2 separate regions of the Homo sapiens genome follow, and region 1 is linked to region 2. Evidence: fine-mapped expression QTL. A gene starts in region 2. The other region holds a variant in brackets. All regions are shown on one strand. Distances are between the middles of the regions. Region 1 has its middle 9.6 kb from the start of AP1B1. Region 2 holds the start of RHBDD3 (rhomboid domain containing 3).

The links.
Region 1: its variant is fine-mapped to the expression of RHBDD3 in prefrontal cortex (GTEx, PIP 0.98).

The regions. Positions count from the first base shown.
Region 1 is chr22:29,393,086-29,403,332 of GRCh38, forward strand. It overlaps a transcript of RFPL1 not described here. Among named protein-coding and RNA genes, the nearest start is that of AP1B1, 9.6 kb to the left of the region's middle. The variant A/C (reference allele first, on the strand shown) is at 4,953.
Region 2 is chr22:29,264,880-29,275,061 of GRCh38, forward strand. RHBDD3 (rhomboid domain containing 3) reads right to left here and starts at 3,102. Exons shown (of 7, transcript NM_012265.3): 1 at 2,869-3,102; 2 at 2,547-2,698; 3 at 600-789. The coding sequence starts at 747. EWSR1 (EWS RNA binding protein 1) reads left to right here and starts at 3,389. Exons shown (of 17, transcript NM_005243.4): 1 at 3,389-3,470; 2 at 7,337-7,373; 3 at 7,501-7,552; 4 at 8,862-8,985. The coding sequence starts at 3,458. RefSeq lists enhancers at 2,981-3,852, 3,245-3,304, 3,415-3,474, 4,937-4,986 and a silencer at 3,645-3,734.

The DNA.
Region 1 (10,247 bases), 130 kb after region 2:
GGGATGCAGGCACCAAATTCAGCCTGGGAAAGTCAGGGAAGTCTTCCTGGAGGAAGTGACACCCAACCTGAACTGTGAAGGGTGAGACTACTACTAATAGTTAACCATTAACCAGGCACTGTGTGAAGCGCCTCTGCATATTAACTCATTAAACTTTCCCAATAATTCCATGACAGTTCCATGACTGTCCCCAAGTAGAGATAAGGAAAAGACCAGTGGGTAGAACTGATTTCTTCCCTACTTCCATGAGGGCCTGGACCTGCTCTCCCACAGCATGATCTGGCAGGAGAGCTAAAAATATACTAGTAAGAGGAAGTACAGTTCAAAGTAAAAGGCTGGATAATTACAGCTTGCAGAGGTGGGTGACAGAAGTGGGGAAGGGAGCATCTAAGGGAACTTCCCTCTCTGCCCCCACCACTAAACCCACCTAGCTACACTGCCTGAGTCATCCACACCATCAAATGCTGACAGCTACAACTGGAACTGCCACACCTGGGGCACATGTGGGTGCCCCGGCCCTCTGAGACCCCAGGCCCAGGAGAAACTCCTTGCCCTAGGATGTGGGGAGCAGAGCCAATGGTAGCCAAGCCCACCTGGATAGAGAGAGAGAGAGAGAGAGGGCGCTGGCTTCCTCCCAAGAAATACATACTTCCTGACAATAATACTACCTCCTGGCTAGTTTTTATTTTTATTTATTTATTTATTTTGAGACAGAGTCTCACTCTTTTTGCCCAATCTGCCTACCACACCCAACTAATTTTTGTATTTTTAGTAGAGATGGGGTTTCACCATGTTGGCCAGGCTAGTCTCGGAACTCCTGACCTTAAATGATCTGCCCGCCTTGGCCTCCCAAAGTGCTGGGATTACAGGCATGAGCCACCACGCCCGGCCTATTTTTATTTGTTTTAGAGATGAGGTCTCACTATGTTGCCCAGGCTGGTCTCAAACTCCTGGCCTCAAGTGATCCTCCTGCTTTGGCCTCCAAAGTTCTGGGATTACAGGTATGTGCCCCTGTGCCCAGCCAGGACATTTTAAAACTTTTCTCCAAGCCCCAGTGTTTTTATACCCTGCCCGATTTGAGCTGGCTGGTGGAGACAGGGCTGTCCAGTTCTTTGTTTTTGAGACAGAGTTTCGCTTTTGTTGCTGCAAGCTCCGCCTCCTGGGTTCAAGTGATTCTCTTGCCTCAGCCTCCCGAGTAGCTGGGATTACAGGCCTGTGCCACCACTCCTGGCTAATTTTGTTTGTTGTTGTTTTTGTTTTGTTTTGTTTTGTTTTGAGACGGAGTCTCGCTGTGTCGTCCAGGCTGGAGTGCGGTGGTGCGGTCTTGGCTCACTGCAACCTCCACCTCCTGGGGTCAAGCCATTCTCCTGCCTCAGCCTCCCGAGTAGCTGGGATTACAGGCACCCACCACCATGCCTGGCTAATTTTTGTATTTTAGTAGAGAAAGGGTTTCACCATGTTGGCTAGGCTGGTCTCGAACCCCTGACCTCAGGTGATCTGCCCGCCTTGGCCTCCCAAAGTGCTGGGATTACAGGCGTGAGCCACTGCACCGGGCCTGGCCAGTTCTTTGGGCCTCAGTTTCTCTTCTCTGCGAACTGTGCACCCACCATGGGCCAAGCATCGTTGTATGCCCTTGACATCCATCAATTCATTTAACTCTCACCGTTCTCAATAGGTAGATGCTAAGATAACCCCATTTTACAGATGAGGCCACTGAAGTCCTGAAATGTTGAGGGACTTTCCCAGCTTCCCAAAGCAGCAATGGGCCTAGCGGAGAGTCAAGGCCAGGGCTGATGACGGCAGGCCTCATGCTTTCTTCTCCACTCACCCTTACCTGCTTCATGAGGTTTCATCCAATGCCAGGAAGGTTGAGAGTTCGTGCGGTCTCGTGAAATGACCCACTGTGACCCCTGCCACTGGCATTCTGTGACCCTCAGCAAGTCCCTTCCCCTTTCTGATACTCAGAATCTCAGAGCAAAGTCCTTCCCATCCTCCCTCCACAATGAATGGGTGCATAAGTACATGAACAAATTAAGTATTCTTCCCCTCTGCGCCCACTAGAGTGCGCACAGGTGCCACTAACCGCCACCGTTCCCTTCAATTGCCATCCTTTCACAGGGGCCGCTGTGCCTTTCTATATACATTCCCAGCCTTTCCGCACTCTTGTTCCTCTGTGATTACTATTCCTCTACTCCAGTCTCTGTTTGCTTGCTGGTTTTTGTTGTTTTCATCCTGCAAATCTCTAAAAGTTGCCACAGAGCCTTTCTAAAAGGAGGCAGGAGGTGGCTTTGTCCATAGCCTCAGGAACACCAGCCTCCACCTGCTTGCTGAGGGCAGGCAGCTTCCCATCCCTCCCGCCCAGCCCAGGCCTGGCACAACCCCCAGGGCAGAGAGGCCTAGAGCTTGCCAGGGATCCCAGCCTTTGCCTCCAGCTCTCCTTGCTGCAGATGTCCTCAGTGCACCATTTCTAGTCTTCCCAGTAGCAAATTCCTGCTCAGCCCCTCCTAGCTGTACACCACAGGCTCCCTCTTGAAGAGCTCTGCTCTCTCAGGTACCCCTGTGCTGAACTACCCTCCGCCGATGCATCGAAAAAGCCCAGGCTCTCAGATGGGCACAGTGGCTCACACCTGTAATCCCAGCACTTTGGGAGGCTTAGGCAGGTGGATCACCTGAGGTCAGGAGTTCCAGACCAGCCTGGCCAATATGGTGAAACCCTGTCTCTACTAAAAACACAAAAATTAGCTGGGGATGGTGGTGAGTGCCTGTAATCCCAACTACTAGGGGGGCTGAGGCAGGAGGATTACTTGAACCTGGGTGGCAGAGGTTGCAGTGAGCTGAGATCATGCCCGTCCACTCCAGCCTGGGCAACAGAGCGAGACTCTGTCGAAAAGAGAAGAGAAGAGAAATAAGAGAAAAGAGAAGAGAAGAGAAAGAAAAGAGAAGAGAAGAGAAGAGAAAGAAGAGAAGAGAAGGAAGAGAAGAGAAGATAAGAGAAAAGAGAAGAGAAGAGGCCCAGGCTCTCAACCCCACCTGGGCTCAGATCTTCAGCTATGGGACTTCAGTTTCCAGTCTGAAAAATGGGACTTGCTATGGTTTGAATGCATCCCCCAGGAAGCACATGTTGGCAGTCCCCACTGCAACAGTGTTAGGAGGTGGGGCCTAATGGGAGGTGTTTGGGTCATGAAGTCTGTACTCTCATGAGTGGATTAATGCCAATCACAGAAGGGCTTGAGGCTGTGTGTTAGATCTCTTGCACTCTCTCTCACTCTCTCTCTTTCTGCCATGGGAATATGCAAGGAGGCCCCCACCAGATGCCGAGCAGATATTGGCACCATGCCCTTGGACTCTGGACTTCAAGAACCATGAGCCAAATACATTTCTGTTTATTATAAATTACCGAGGTATTCTGTTAAAGCAGCACAAGACAGACTAACATAGGTTGGTTGTGCCTTCTTGCAAGGTTGCTGTAGAGATTAAATTGTAGAACTAATGTACAGTGCCTGGCATCTATAAGTCCCCCTTAAATGGGAGCTTTTGTATTAATTTAATTTGTATTAATTAAAAAAAAATAGAGGTTGGAGGGAGGTCTTACCATGTAGTTCAGGCTGGTCTCGAACTCCTGGCCTCAAGTGATCCTCCTGCCTTGGCCTCCCAAAGTGCTGGGACTACAGGCACGTGCACCACACCTGGCTAATTTTTGTATTTTTTGTGGAGACAGGGTTTTGCCTCATGTGCTCAAGTGATCCACCCACCTTGGCCTCCCAAAGTGCTGGGATTACAGGTGTGAGCCACCACACCCAGCCTGAAACTTCTTTTTTTTTTTTTTTTTTTTTTTTTTTGAGACGGAGTCTCGCTGTGTCGCCCAGGCTGGAGTGCAGTGGCTTGATCTCGGCTCACTGCAAGCTCCGCCTCCCGGGTTCACGCCATTCTCCTGCCTCAGTCCTCCCGAATGGCTGGGACTACAGGCGCCTGCCACCGCGCCCGGCTAATTTTTTTTGTATTTTTAGTAGAGATGGTGTTTCACCGTGTTAGCCAGGATGGTCTCGATCTCCTGACCTCGTGATCCGCCCACCTCGGCCTCCCAAAGTGCTGGGATTACAGGCTTGAGCCACCGCGCCCGGCCACCTGAAACTTCTTAAGTAGTTCCCACAATGACATAAGTTCAACAACTGAGACAAATCTCTTAATCTATATGCCCTGGTGTTTCCGTTTCTGTGCTTGAACCCTGACTGAATTGGGGGGATACACTGATTCAGGTCTTCAACTGGTTCAGCTCTAAGGCAGGTCCTTAGAGCGTGAGGTCTCCAAAACCCATCAGCCTTGGGTCCTCCTGGTGGGACTTGCTCAGAGTCCAGTTTTCCTAACCGCCCTGTAGCTACCAGTGGCTGGACGAGGACAGACTTTTCCCAAGCCAGTGCCAACAGCAAGAAACTGCAGTTACCTGCCGACCGATGGGCCAAACAGAACAAAAGAAAACCCAGGATTGGACCTAAAAACCAGATCTTCTGTATCAATAGAGGGTCTTTTGATAAGTGGGCATCTTGGAACTGGGGCACTCTGGGAACAAAAGTGGTGATGGGACTCTGTGGGTGAGTGTTAACCCCCATTCTCCTATTGGGATAGGGTTACATGCTCCCAGGAGTGGGGTTTGGGTCTCTGCATGCAGATTGGGACCCTGCTTGAGTAGTGCCCACTTCTAGTTGGGTAAAGAGGCATGTGGAAGCTGAGCTTCCATCTGGGGCTGAGCTGGACTTCATGACACCCAGACTCTCCAGCCCGGGCCTTGGCTAGTTCCCAGGGGGCTCTGAGGCCATGTCCAAGGGGACAATGATGGCCCTCAGTGTGACAGGGTGGCTGGGAAGTGGGAAGAATCCATGGAAGGGGGGGTTGGCATCTGGCTTGCCCGAGGGGTCTCCCACATCGAGCAGGGCAAATTCCCCACGCAAAGCAGC[A/C]AGCTGCACCTGTCAGAGCTCTCAGTGCTGTGGCTCATCCGCTCTACCCTGGGCAGCTGGTGGTACGAAGCTGGTTAGTGCCATCTGAGACCACCACTGGGGCTGCACTCATGGGGGTGTGGGAAGGCTGGAGATGGCAGGCCTCAGCCTCATGAAGATCTCTGTTACTCCTTTGCTAATTACCAACAGTGATCCACTGACCCCAGTTCAGGCCTCAGTTTCCCATCTGTACAACAAGGGGACTGGACTGGATGATCACTCATTTGGCTTCCAGCTAGGACTCGTAATAATGGTGATGATGGTGATGATGATGGCGGTGCCATTTGCCAAAAACTCACCATGTGCCAGACTCCACGCAAAAATCATGAAACTGGACTGGCTCCCTTAATCTGCAAAATATCCCCACGGGGCAGGCACAGTTGTTATCCCCATTTCGTAGTTGAGGGCATGCAATCCTCGTGCAGTTGGAAAGGAGCTGAGCTGGGAGGAAGATAGGACAGCCACATGGATCTAGATCGGGACCCAGGTTCTGCTGTTTCTAGCCGTGTGACCCTGAGCAAGTCACTTGCCCTTTCTGTGCCTCTGTCTCCTCTGATGCCCATTCCTCGGGGCTGCTATGTGGCCTAAAGGAGGCAATGCACTATGCGTGGTGCACAAAGAACACACCGTAGTCATCAATCATTGTGATGATTATGGTTTTTCTTTTAGTCTCCCGTGTAGCTAGGTATGGCCATATGACTAACCTTTAAGCCAATGATTTGTAAGCACTGTCCTATGTGGAACTTCCAGAAAATCTTCCTTCTTCTTCCTGTCCTCCATCCTGCTCTCTGGAACGAATATACAAAAGCTGAAGATCAACAGCCACCCTAGGCCACAAAGATAGCAGGGATGGGCCACACTGTCTCTTGACTCCCTTACTAGAAGACAAGTTACACAAGAACAGAAATCTTGTTTATCTTGGTCAAAGCGACCTCCAGAACACTTACAAAGTGTGTGTCACGTGTTAAGGGCACAGGTATTGAATGACTATTGAATGAATAGGTGAATAAATGAATTTACTTCAGACTCACCAATAAATAAGGTTTCAGCTTCCTTCATAGAATTAAAGTATTGATTAATTTAAGTCACATTACTTCTATTTGCTTTCCTTTGCTCTCCCAAACTTGCACCTGTCATAGAAGGATAGTGTTTTGTTTTTTTAAATGTGCTCCAGAATTCCCCTCAAAAAAAAAAAAAAGTTTTAAAATCTATTTTCATGACAATGCTTCCCAGTATAGTCCTGCTTAGCAAGTTTAAAATTCTTCAGTTTTCTTGGTCATGGATACGTATTTTTGTGTACGTCTGTTGTTAAATGGAGGCACTGATTTGGAACAAAATAGACCTCACCTCAAGTCCATAAGAATCATCCAAAATGGTATCTAATGACATTCCTGGGACCTCAGCCAATATTATTATTGACATAGAATGCAGTCACTGGGTCCTGAGGATTTCATCGGATGTTGGTTGCTGAAACTGAACTTTATCGGGTCTTTTCCCCTTCCACTGTGGTTTTCCACATTTCAACATGTCACCTAACTGTCCTCAAACTTTACTTAAATCTTTTCAACTAAATGGAATCTTTATTACCCCTGCTCCTCTGCTTTTTGAAGCAACCGTTTTCCTCCTGTGATAACACTCCCTGTGGCCCCTTTTGTGGCCCCTTTTGTGGTCACAGGGTTTGTAAACATTCAGACTTTTTGCAACTACATATACTTTTATTCTTATTTTTCACTCTTCTCGCAGTTGTTGCTTTTTCTTTTAACTCTTTGAGGGAGTTAATTAGCCCCCTCTTCAACTTTTGTGATGCACCTATTCATATTTGAGCCTCTGGGTTTTTGCTCAAATTGCTTTTCAATTTACTCACTGTTGAAGAAAGCCATTATTTGGGGATTGTAAGGTGTATCAAGCTTTTCTTTTCTTTTTTTTTTTTTTTTTTTGAGACAGCGTCTGGCTCTGTCGCCCAGGCTGGAGTGCAGTGGCGCGATCTCGGCTCACTGCAAGCTCCGCCTCCTGGGTTCACGCCATTCTCCTGCCTCAGCCTCTCAAGTAGCTGGGACTACAGGAGCCCGCCACCGCTCCCGGCTAATTTTTTTGTATTTTTAGTAGAGACGGGGTTTCACTGTGTTAGCCAGGATGGTCTCGATCTCCTGACCTCATGATCCACCCGTCTCAGCCTCCCAAAGTGCTGGGATTACAGGTGTGAGCCACCACGCCCGGCCTATCAAGCTTTTCTAAAGTGTAGACTTCTCTATACATAATTGCCTCTTTCCTAGAGTAGTTATCTGACAAGTCTATTCAGAGAGCTGGTCATGAAAAGAGCTTTTTGTAAACCTCTCCTTTAGAAGAAATGTCTCTAGTCACACAGTGCTTTCTCCCTTCTTGATTTTGTATCAGTCCGAAGCTAATCTGTCCTCACTCTGGATTGCATGAACTTGTGCCTTCTTGGGCATCATGTGTTATTAATTCTCCCTCTCTTCCAATTGTAAACATGTTTCCTTTATTGGTTCTTACCATTTAGGATAAAAGTATACTCATCTTTATGGGGGGGGAATGAAAGCTTTCTTAACCATATATCTCCCTTCAACTGTTCCCACATCTCTCTTTTCAGCCATACTTTTAGGAGGAGAAGCCCTCAGTTGATGTCTTTACTTTCTCACCTCTAGTTCACTCTTTCCCCACTGCTGACGCTCAGCTTACTCACACACATCCTCAATCACTGAGTTGCCACAGGCAATGGCATCTGTGGCTTTTCTGCCTTCTTGGCAAAATATGGCTCTGTTGATTGGGGTATTAGGTATAAAGTACCTACTGACCAGGCCCTGTGCTAGGTGAGGCCATTACAGAAATGAGAAGCAGACACCACCTCCATTCCGATGAGACCCACCAGATCAGCCATTGCTGATGAACACTCAGGTGCCTTGACTCTCACTTTTCACTTTTGCAGTCTTTACTTCATGCCACGTACATTTCCCTATTCCCCAAGCCTCCTTTCTCTCCAAACCCCTCCCCTTATTAGACACAGCCTTTTAAAGCAGTCACGGTCATACCCATGGCTTCAATTGTATTGTATATGCTGTTATGACAATAGAATTTAAATGTTGTTCTTATATAACAGTTTTATTTTACGTGACACCTCATTCGCTACAACCATAAATTCAAAGTTTCCCTAAGAAAGTAATCACTAAAAAATTGTCATATTCTTAGTATGTAAATTTTAGGAAATTTCCTTAATGATTTGAGTTACTGTGTGTGTGTTACTTTTGAAAACATGAGTTGGGATGTCACAGAATGGACTTAGCCTACAGAGGTTTATATCCAATTTTCAACCAGACGGTTCCATTTCAATGTGACACTTAAAGAGTTCAAAACTGTCTCATTCCCCACACCTCTTTCTCGTCCTACATTCTCTGTCTAGGGGAGAATCACTGCTATTTACACAGTCCATCAAACTAGGGCCTTAGCAGCCTGTTTTTCCTTCCCCTCTTCTTCCACGTCTAATCACCAAGCACTTCCTCTTCTATCTCCCAGCTGATCACAAAACTTTTCCTTCCACTTCAGTCACTGCTGCTGCCTTTTTAGCCTTACTGTTCTCCAGATGAACATAGAGTATCTTAATCAGCCCCACTGCTTTCATAAAGCCCTCTCCACTGCGCAGAGTGACGTCACTGCAAACACATCGGATAGAGACTCTTCACCCCTGTGTGGTTCAGTGACTCTCGTTTCCAGAATAAAATTCAAACTCTACCCCAGCATCTAATTTTGGGTCAGATAGATCTGCGTTTTCATTCCAGGTTGATTCACTGTCCAGCAGTGTAGCCTCAGACAATTGAATCCTCTAAGCCTTTGTTTGCTCATCTGCCTGAACTCACGGAGGGTTGGGACTGTTTCACACATGCAGTATTGGCACTTAGACTTAATGTTGAATGAAGGGGAGGCATTTTAAAATCCACATCAAAAAACTGTTATTCTTTAAAAAAAATACTAATCTACAAGGTCACTGCCCCTCCAAGCATGACGTCTACCTTTACTTTCTGATAACCATGATCGGCTTGTGGGGATCAAGATTACTCAGGATTAAATCCTAGCCCCATCTTGAGCCGTCATGGAAACTTGGAGAAAGCTACTTAACTTCTCCATCTAGATTGATTCTGTAAAATCCATAAAATGGAATGGTTTCTGGGGGTTAAATTAGTATACCACAGCTGGAACACTGTCAGGCTTGCCAGATATTTACTATTCATCTTCATCAAATGAGGACAGTGGTTCTCAATTTTGTATAAGAAAAACACGCTTTATGCATTGTTAGTAAAAGAAATATCTGAATATCCCTGCCATGGAAGAAAGAAACAGAGGGAGAAAAGAGAGTTGGTAGGTCCTAGCATTTCAGAACTGGGAAGGATGAGTTCAGTCCCTATTTTATAGACAAGGAAGGGAAAGTGTGATGTGTCCTAGGGTTTCATTCAAGTCACAGTCATCACGCTTTATCGAGAGTGGGACCAGGGCTCTAGGAGTTGCTATGGTCAAGTTGAAGACAAAAACTAACACTTGTAAGACAGGAGAGAAGCATTTACTTACAAAGCAGTCCGAAATTTGTGTATAACTACATTTGGTGAGCAAACGAAAGCTGCCAGACTCAGAAAAACAGAGATGCTAATGGAACTGACTTTAGTAACCAGGGTTTTCCATTGAGTTCATTGCCCGGGGTGACTTCCAATAACAACCCCCGCCCCCCTGCACTTTTCTCAGGACTGGAAAGCTCAGGCAGCCCAGGACGAATAGTGCAGTCACCACAGAGGGACAGGGTGGCCACAAGGTGGGCAGCAGCAGGGAGGTGTGAGCCATTGGTTGGGTCTGTGGGGTCGGCCATTGTGAGCCACTAGCCTGACTTGGTTGTTTCCTGGTAACCAGGTGACATAGGAGGCTTTGTGGGTACTAGCCATTGGGCAGGGCCAGCAGCCTTCAGTAGCTGGTAGTGGAAGGAGGAGCTCTGACTACACTCTCACGACTGTTTTTTGCCTCTTGGTTCTTGTTATGTCCCTTTCTTTTTGAAATAAGACAGAAGGTCCCCACCTTCATAGACATAGAGAGATCCCATCTTATTTGTTTTTAAAAATAAATTGAAAAGTGAGGCGGAGCCTTGTGAGGATGATGGGAGAGGGCTTCCAGAGAGGAATTTCTTCTTTGGAATTCCTGAAATGGGAACAAACTTGTTTTGGGAAAAGGACAGAAAGACACAAAGGTGGCTGCAGCAGAGTG
Region 2 (10,182 bases):
CCATTCTCCTGCCTCAGCCTCTCGAGTAGCTGGGACTACAGGCACCCGCCACTACGCCCAGCTAATCTTTTTGTATTTTTAGTAGAGACGGGGTTTCACCGTGTTAGCCAGGATGGTCTCAATCTCCTGACCTCGTGATCCGCCCGCCTCGGCCTCCCAAAGTGCTGGGATTACAGGAGTGAGCCACTGCGCCCGGCCAATTTTTGTATTTTTAGTAGAGACAGGGTTTAACCATGTTGGCCAGGCTGGTCTCGAACTCCTGACCTCAAGTGATCCACCTGCCTCAGCTTCCCAAAGTGCTGGGATTACAGGCGTCAGCCACCTGGCCTTAGTTCTTATTTCAAGGAAAAGCTGCTAGAAAGGGAAACCATGAGAAAAGCACTCCTACCCATAGGTTCCAGCCCACCCTAGGGAGTCCTCTGCCTCCCTTCTTGGCTGTGGATGTGCTGGGCATGCTCCTGTCTAAGGCCATGCTTTCCCGGGACACTGGGCCCCATCCCTGTTTGACCCCTGGAGGCCTTGTGCTGCTCCTGCCAAGTGGGCCCAGGCCCTACAGCAAGTCTCCTGCTTCCTCCAAGGTCCACGTGGCTGGCCCTCACCCTGCCAGGGGTCCAGCAACAGCTCCGGGGCCAGGACCAGGCCGGGGCCGGCCCCCACCAGCCACAGGGTGCTCATCAGCAGCATCAGGACTGAGGAGGCCAGAGGCAGTGCTGGGGACAGTTGGCCATGGGGGCCCCTGGCATGCATCGCTTGGTTGAGGACGGTCAAGGGTGGTCCTGGGGCTGTGTGCTGGGGATAAAAGAAAACAATAACAAGTTATTACTGGAGCTTTTATCTCACCAATACCCTCTCAAGCACCTTATCAACAGCCCTATTTTACAGAGGTGGAAACAGGCTGGAGACGCAGGCCCAGCAGCTTGGCCTTAGTGGAGCTCAGACCCTAACCCATGCGCTCATAAGCCATCTTACCATTCCACTCACCTCTGTTTAAGGACTGGCAGGGGACAGGCATAGAGACTTCTGAGTCCTGATAGGCCCTGAACTCCCAAAAAGAGGGGTTCAGGCCCTCACCCCCCAGGGCGAATTCAGGGCCATCTCTAGCCCTCTTCTGTCCTCCCCCTTCCCTCAGACTACTACCTCCCTCCTTCCTCCCCTCCCCTGTTCCCAGCCTTAATGCTCCAGATGGTTTCAGTTGCCCTTGACCCTGGGGTGGGGCCAGACAATGGGCAAGCCGACAGGGTAAGGGGTAGGGCAGATGGGCAGAAGTCCCACATCTTGAGCCATACTCAGAGACCTGCGACTGAGACATCCCCTTTGAGGGTGAACCCATCCACTGTAAGCCTCCTCCTGCTTCCTTACTGGCACAGCCCCTCTGGCCCTGGCTCCCCTTTCCACAGGAAGGGTACAGTATGCGCTCCACCTCTTTCTGCTCTGTGTCCTGAGGCAAGTTTCCAACCTCATCTTTTTACAGATGAGCCTCATTTTACAGATGAGCCTCTCCTTTCTCATCTGTAAAATGGAAATTCATAAATTCTTTTCCTCAGAGTATGATGAAATAAAAAGGAATAGGCTAAGGCAGGCCCTGGCCCACAACTCTTCCTCCATAAACCATAGCAATCCGCACTAATCATGGCAGGCGTCTGTAGCCACCAACTGGCCCATCGAGAAGGCCTCAATATGGAGGTGGCTGCTCCAGCCTAGCTGGTCCCAGCTTTGGCCCTCAAACATGGCCTTTCCCTGCCCACCAAAGCAAGGCCTTCTCCCCCGTGCTGTTCTCTTGCATCCAGCCTGTCCTCCAGGGCCTGTAGGTCTTCACCCCTGGTCAGGCCTCTCGGTCCCAGGACTCCCACTGAGCTGATTCAGGGCAGGAAGCAGGATCCCAGAGAGACAAGAAGGCTGCCTAATTTGCTCCCCTGCCAAGCGCCTTCTCCACATCTACCAGTTTCCTGCAGGAAAAATGTGGAAAGCTCCTCTGCCTGCATTGTCCTTCCCTCCATTTTGCCAGCAGGCAAACTCCTATTTCACCCTTGGAAGCCCAGCTCAAATATCCCTTCCCCTCCTCTGGCCCCCTAACATCATGGATCTTATCCTTAGGAGCACAGCTTGGCCAGTCTGTCTCCCTAGGCAGGTGGTCTGAGCTCATGGCTCCTCTGATCCAACCCCACATTCCCCAGGGTATTCACAGCACACAGCCAGTGCTTTATATATGTTCACTGAAAAAAGGACACTAGCTTGGCTCCTGGTCCTGCCGAGGGATTTGAAGGTGAACCCTGCCCTTCGCGGACCCGGGCATCCACCTAGGGGGCTGGGGCTAGAGGTCCAGGAAGGTGGGCAGGGTCAGCCTTGCCTGGAGGCAGGGTTTGGGGCCAAGGCACCCACCGTAAACCTCCTCCTGCATCGACACCTCACAACCATTCCCCAGCTCTGGGCACCTTAGCAAGGGTGAAGGGCTTACCCGTGGACACTCGGAACTGGGACTTGAGCCCCCTGGACCTCACTTTCTTCAATCTATGAAACGGGGCAGTGCACCACCAGGCCCTGCCTACCTTACTGGGAAGCCGGGAGGGCAGAATGGAAAGACAAGGACGGAGATTCTTCCGGTGGCGGATAGAGTAGGGGGTCCCAGGATCTGTCTGGTTCGAACTCAGCTGGTGACTTTGCAGAGATACTCAATTTCCTTGGGCCTCAGTTTCCCCTTCTGTAGAAACAAGGATATCGGATGAGGGATGATTAAAGGGCCTGCTCCACCTCGACCGTTACCGGGGATAGGGTCTCGGGGCCAGGCACGGCGTTCGAGGCCTCCCACCCAGCCGACCGGCCTTGGGGACCCTTCCCCGCTGGCCCGGGCCACGCGTCCCGGGTACTCACTGCAGAGCGCGCCCGGCAACCCCGAAAGGCCGGTCGGGGACCCCGGCTGGGAGTCAGGACTCTAGCTCCCGGGCGCGACCCGAGAACCCTGAATCCATTCCGCGCACACCCGGCCGCGTGACCCCTGCCGACCGGCTGGCGCGCCACCCATTCCCCGCGGCCCGCGGATTAGTCAGCAGTTGTTCTAGTCCGGGTCCCTTCCCCCAGCCCTCCCGCCGATCTCCGTCTCCCTGCAGGGCCGACTCTTCAGCGACCGTCCCTAGAGCCAGCGGACGGAACCATTCCAAACAGCCTAGTCTCGTGCTGAGAGCCTCTCCGGTTTCACGCTGAGACCCGCTCACCCCCGCTCTGGCCCCTTAGATGCTATTTTGGCCCGAGTGTCACGTCGGGCGCTCTTTAGAGAGGACTGGGACAAGAGTTGCGGACGCGAAGAACGAGTAAGCGGTGGTTCATCCCTCCTGACCCCACCCCCGTGGCCTGGCCCGATGGTCGCGCCCGGGGTTGCGAGATTTGCGCCTGCGCAGTGCGGCGCCTAGAGGGAAAGCGAGAGGGAGACGGACGTTGAGAGAACGAGGAGGAAGGAGAGAAAATGGCGTCCACGGGTGAGTATGGTGGAACTGCGGTCGCGCCGGCGGTAGCCGGAACGCCCAAACTGGGGGTCGTTCGTCTCTGGGCTTGGCTGGGAAGACTGAGTGGAGTTGCCGAGAGGGGGTTGAGGCACCCGCCGCGGCCCGACGAGCTCGGGGATCCGCATTCCTCTCCCCTCCCCCAACCGGGCGGGCCGGTTCTGGAATCTTCCGGCGCCCGTGGCGCGCGGGGGGCTTGCTGCGGCGGGGGCGCGCGGGGCCCGCCTTGGCCTCCATTGTGTGGCGGTCCTCGCGCCCTGAGCTCCGGGCCTCCCGCCACGTGGGCGGGGCCTGCGGCCTTCGAGGCCCTGCGTGAAGGGGAGGATTTGGCCAGGCCTCAAGCCGGTCACTATGAAACCGCCGGGGGGCCCGCAGGCTGCTGTCCCTGTGAGGCCTCCCTCCCCGTTTTCAGGGTTTCCTGAGAAACCAGGGGAAAAAGCAAATAAAGATACCGTGGATTTGTGGGCCGAGGGGTGCCGGCCTATGAGCGGGAGCCCCGTCATCCTTAAGACCCAGTCGGCTGGGGCGTCTGGCGCTGCCGAGCTGCCCCCTCTGTGGCTTCCAGCCCCAAGCCGAACTTCTGCTCGCCTGGGCTTTAGACAGAATGTGCTTCCCTCCTCCAGGGCCCCCAGTTTGCCGCTTTCTTGGGCTTCTCCATTTTTATCGTTATTAATCCACGTCCTCCCCTCCCCCAAAACCAATTAAGTGGCTTCCCAGGGCCCTTTTTCTGCAAACGCCGAGGGACATCCGTTGTATAATAAGGCCAGCCTGGGTCGAGAGACGAGAAACGCTACCAGAAAGATATTTCTGGTCTCTCTGACCTAGGAGGAACAAAAGGCCGAGCCTTCATTTGAATTATGTTTCAGCAGTGGCCTCGCACGTTTATTCGCCTGCGTTAGGCCGGCAGGCCTGTTGATTTCGTAGGTCGACAGAGGAGAGGGGAAAAAAGGCCAGTAGAAGCAATCTTAAAGGCACTTGCAAGCAAGCCCCGGTTGGGAACTCCAAAATGGGAGTAGAGTGGTCCTTGATGGAAGGAGCGTTTAAGAGTGTCGCCTAGCCATCACCTGCAGTTCGCAATCTGTGGGTACACTAACCCGCGAAAATTGGCAGGGTGGAGCATTTTTGCCCCGGGGGTATTCTCAGGCCACCTGGTTCCAGGCCTTAGAGACAGTGGGAGAAGATGAGAAGGAAGACAGGAAAAGTTCTGGGCACTCCAGAGTTTTTGGAGTCCAGAATCCAGCAACTTAAGGACAGTTTAAGAATTCTCCCCATCTGTGGTCAATAAACAGGTAAGTGTTGGCTGTTCGTGCCGGGATACCAAAGAGTGGATACCAAAGAGTGCCGGTAGAAGAGAGGACTGAAATACCACAGCTAACCTCCCGGTGGGAAGTGGTTTCCTAGGTGCCCTATCCACCCTCTTCTGCTCTGCAAAAGCCTGAAAAGGCAAAACGTGTGCGTTGACATTTTTGCGTGGCTGGACGTGCCTTTTTTCAGTCAACTTTGTTCAAACCTTGTTCACCAGTAACTACCATGTGCTGTACTGTATTAGAATTACAGTTGTGGTTTCTGTTGACACAAAGTAAACACATTAGGCCTGGCTGGGGGGGCCTTCAGAGAGTCACATAAGTAATCTGGTCCTTAGTTTCCTTTCCTGTAAAATACAGAAGTTAGGCTAGACCTCTTAAGCTTTTGAGCCCTTCTGACCTTCCAGCATAAGCATTCCACAAATTTGTCCTATGCTGACTTCAGCTCAGGTACTGTGAAGCTCAACTCAGGTAGTGTGAAGCAGCTTCCATAGTGACTGCTCTAAAGTGTTAAACCGTTGCCTTGGGTTAATAATAGAAGTTTTCTCTCCTCGTATGTTATCTCATGTAGAAAAGTACGTAAAGCATATATATCCAGTGCAACAAAGAATTGGAATGCAGACTCGCAGCAATCTAGAACCCCCAGCGCTCAATCACAGTGAAGTGATTTTTAGTGAAGTCAGTGGCTCACTTTTGGGGGTTAAAAACGAACACGGTTGCTGAATAATCTGACCAGTTTGTAATTGTATTAGGTTGGTGCAAAAGTAATTACGTTTGCATCAACCTAATAGCTTGCTTGAGGGCCTGTGATGTTTGTGTGCTCTAGGAAGATAAATGTAAGTTCATGAAACAAATTTGCTACCTTCTATAGCCCACCAGTTAGTATAGGGCCGAATCCTGTGGTTTCTCACTGATAAGAGGTCATTGGTTGTTCCATATCAGCTTTGCCAGTTTGATGTTTTACATAACTGCTCTTGCGTAAAAGTCGTCTTGCAAACGTTGAACTTACATGACAGTGATTTACAATCACTTCTCAAGCAAAGACCTCAACAAAACGTGGGTTAAAATATTTGATGTTAAATGATTCATTGCTGTGTTTATTTTGTAGATGCCACATGGAAAAAATGATCTGCATTTAGTTTTAATGTCAGAGAGAGTATGACTTGTAGTGCTATTGAAAATGCCTTTAAGATTGTCATGAACAGATTATTTTTTTCATTATAGGTTAGCCTTTGGGCAGTTGATTTGTTCCTCTTGGTGATTCAGGGTTTTGAGTTAAGAGTGTGTACAAAGGAAAGAAAGTAGTCCAGTAAAGTACAGAGAGGTAGGCAGATAAGCCAACGTGAAGAGATGGATTCAGCAAAGCTCTCTCAGGCCGCCGAGGGATTGTGAGGCTGGCTTTGGATTCCATGAAGTGGATGCCATGAAGAGCTGTCAATTGTTGGTTTTGGATGAGGGACTACTTTCTGATTGGAAAATAAAGGACCCCTTTTTTCCGTCCTAATGGCAGTACTGTCTTCAGACAGAACAAGATATGTGTTCTTGTGGAGAAGAAAGAATTGGGCAGAATTTTCAAAAATAATTACTTTAACTGCCTTTAAAAAAAAACTAAATTTATCTAACTTTAATGCAGTAGCGCTCTGAAAACTATTTTCCGTTTGTTTTTACTACTTGTAGACACCTCAGTGGACCAGTTTTTGGTCCCTTTGGATGCATGTTATAAATTTCATAGGAAAAGGAAAATTATAGGGAGGTTTACTTAGATAAGGGATGAAAATTCATGTCTTTTTTTTAAGTTGAAATCATTTTGAGTTGTATGAAAGACAATGGTGTTACCAAATTTTTCCCAGAAAGACTAAATGCTTTTTCTTCTTTGCCAGTCTTCAGGGTTCTGCCTTAGCTCTGCTTCACCAGGGTTTATAATATATCTAGCTTTTAAGTTGCTGCACAAATATAGTTCTGACACAGCAAACCCTTTAAAACACTGGAGTGTGGTGACTGCCTTCTTGTCTGCCATTCCGTTTCACTGTCGTTGAGCTAGGGAATGATGGTTTGTCTAACTTGCTAAAGTGAGGGGAGTGAAAACTAATTTTTGAGGAGAGGTAGGTTCTAACGTAACCAATCTAGTGTTAAACTTTGTATTATTGTTGCATGCCTCCGTTTTATATGAGGGTAGAAACTTCTGATCCTGTTAGTAGATCTTGTTGTCAGTCTGTGATATTGATGATCATCCTGTATTTTAAATGACAGTTGGGATTGGGATGGGTTTTGTGGTCATGGGAACATAAAAAGTATACCTGCCAAATCAGCTGATCTTGACCTCATTAGCTAGTCCCACAGTCAAATGTTGAGTTTAACTGGTTTAGACTTTTTTTTCTGTTAGATGTTGAGAGGTAAGGGGGACTCATTTGGACCTGTGTTGGCAGGTCTCCCTACAGTTTAAAGAATTCTTCCTGCCACGTGAATTCTTTCCCCCTTTTTTCTCTTCTCCTTGTTTCTGCTAACTTTACACTATTTTTCCTCCTTGTTTTCCTCTAGATTACAGTACCTATAGCCAAGCTGCAGCGCAGCAGGGGTAAGTCAGTCTTTTATAACCGTATTTTGTGTGTGATTAATATTTTTTGAATATGGAGCCTTCTATAATTGTAGAGGTGGTATTTGAATGTTCTCTATTCAAGTTATTGCATTTAATTCTTTTGCAGCTACAGTGCTTACACCGCCCAGCCCACTCAAGGATATGCACAGACCACCCAGGTAATCTTTAAAATAATTACATGTAGCTGCACCTCCAAGTAAAATCAGTATATTATCCAGTTATCTTTCAGTTATCCAGTAAAACAAATGAGTAATGTGTTTGGAATAGTAAAATACCCAGGCATTTTAAACTTTCACAGTGGGAGTGCGAAGGACTCCATTGTGCCATCATAAATGAAACCATTCAGAAGCTGATAATTGACTCTTTATAACTTTTTAATATGATTTCTCAAGTTAGGTGCCCTGTTCCATGCTTGGTCCTTCTTCATTATGTTTAAATTTAGTGAATTTATTCATCATAGCAATTCTGCAAAGGAAGAGGATGATATGACCATTCTGCAGAGGAGAACATTGCAGTGCATAGATATTAAGTAACTTGCCAGTGGTTGCACAGTAAGTGGCGGGGTTAGCTCTAAAAACTGGCGACCTAGCCAAGGAGCTGCTGAGCTCTTTCCAGTGAAGAGTCTGTTGAAAAGCCTAGGCCAACAGATTCTAGAAATTAGCCTTCTAGTGTTTTCAAGATAATGTTGAATTCTGAAATGATCCATGCCATAAAATGGATACTAATAACTGCCATGGAAACATGTTCTAGGACAAGCAGAATGTGATGTCTCTGGCAGATCTTACATAACTGGTCATTTAAACAAACCTAGAGAATAATCATGCTAATATCTGAAAGAACAACTCTTCCTTGCCTGATTTTAAGTATTATGGATGTCTAAGTTCAAAAGACAGTACTCTTGATGTGCCCACCATAAGAGGACATACAGCGTTCTGGTTCATTTTCTTTGAAGTGGTATAGTAGTTTTAAAGTCTTTTTGTCAGGCTGAAAATCTGGTTTTCAATTTTTTCTGACAGATTTTAGCCCTCTTCATTGCTTTCTCTGTTCATTTGTCTTCGTACCTTTTGTTTCCAATCACTAAAACTGTGCTACGCTAAGTGCTAGCAGTTAATACACCTGTGCCCTTATTGCTCTTCCCTTGAGAGTGTCTTGTTAATCTCATGTATAGTTAACTGAGGTTTTGCCTGATTATCTTTTTTTTCCCCCTTTTGAGAAGCTGTGAATGACATTGCCTACTTACCTAATGAGCTTTTTCCGTAGCTAACTTTACCATAATATGAGTGAACCAGATAAGGGATAACATTCATGATACTGTGATTATTTGTCTTGTTTTGTTGTTTTTGTTTTGTTTTTTTAATCTTCTAGAAAGGAATGTTTTTGATTTTGGTTCTCCAATTTAGTCCATTTTATTGCTAAAATACAAAAGTTCATGTATGAAGTTCTTGCATTCGTTTTTTTTTGGAGCAGGCATATGGGCAACAAAGCTATGGAACCTATGGACAGCCCACTGATGTCAGCTATACCCAGGCTCAGACCACTGCAACCTATGGGCAGACCGCCTATGCAACTTCTTATGGACAGCCTCCCACTGGTAAGGCCTGCCTTGGAGAGATTTTTGGGTCGTTCTGGCTAGGGCATTGGCTAAGAAGCTTATTAGTCATGCTTTCGGATGTATATTCTGGTCCATACCTTGGCATCTGGGGAATCCTTTATTCTTAGGAAGAGGTATTTTTTCTCTTTCTTCCCTACTCTTATAGTCTTGAGAGATCTCCAATAGAATGTGGGTGGGATAAATTCCAAGAGAGAAAAGAACTTTTAACTGTTTGAATAATCTCACGATGAAATGGAGACTATGTAAAAGATTTTGCTAATGCTAATACTGAGTAAGAATGAGTCTTCTTAAATTGAGCTGCTTAAAAATCAAACTGGTTTTCACATGTTTGCTTCATCTGATAGTGTACCCTCTACTTTTTGTTTTGTGCTTTCCACAGTAGAAGGGACCAGTACAGGTTTGACTATCCTGCTCATTCTTGCATGGGAAATGCTTTCCATCTTGTCTAACCCTGTAATGTTAATCCTTTAGGTGTTTTCATTTGTTGAACCCCCAAACTTTCTAACATCACACACAGCAAGGTGCTAATGAAAAACTGCTTCAGGTGCCATTTGCAGATCCATGTCCTATTCTTTATATGATTTTGGGAAAGGTTTTTTTATTTAATATTACTTTGTTTCAAGCCTTAATAATAGTTATTTACCTTCCCAAAGGTATTTCAGGTGATTTCTCCCCAGCTGATTTTCCCCTGTTCCCTGAAGGATAGATTGCATGATGAGATTTATTTAGAGGAGCAGACTGCCACCCTGCATGTATCATGTTTGTCTATTGGTTGGTTTCTAGTCCAGACACATTTTATTTTCTGTTTTAAGTGTTATGAATTATTTTAATCCATGGTATGTCTTGAATATATATAACATTATTCCAAGATACTAAAAAATAAACTATTCTAAGAATTAGAAGAAATTGTATTCCGATACTGAGGTTGGGTGGGATACATGAAAAACCTATGATAATTTTTTTGTGTTCAGTGCTGTGTAATGTTTCAGGCTGTCTCCCCCTGCCCTTTTATTATTGCTGTTATAAAAGACTCTAATAAAGTCTTAAAGATATCAGAGCTCTTATTTTCAAACTGTCTTTAGTTCTCCAAATTATATATAGTCCAGTTAAGGGGAAAAACCTGTCTGTAATTTATCTCATTGAGTACCAGTGTCCTGATTTTGATGGGAAGTAATT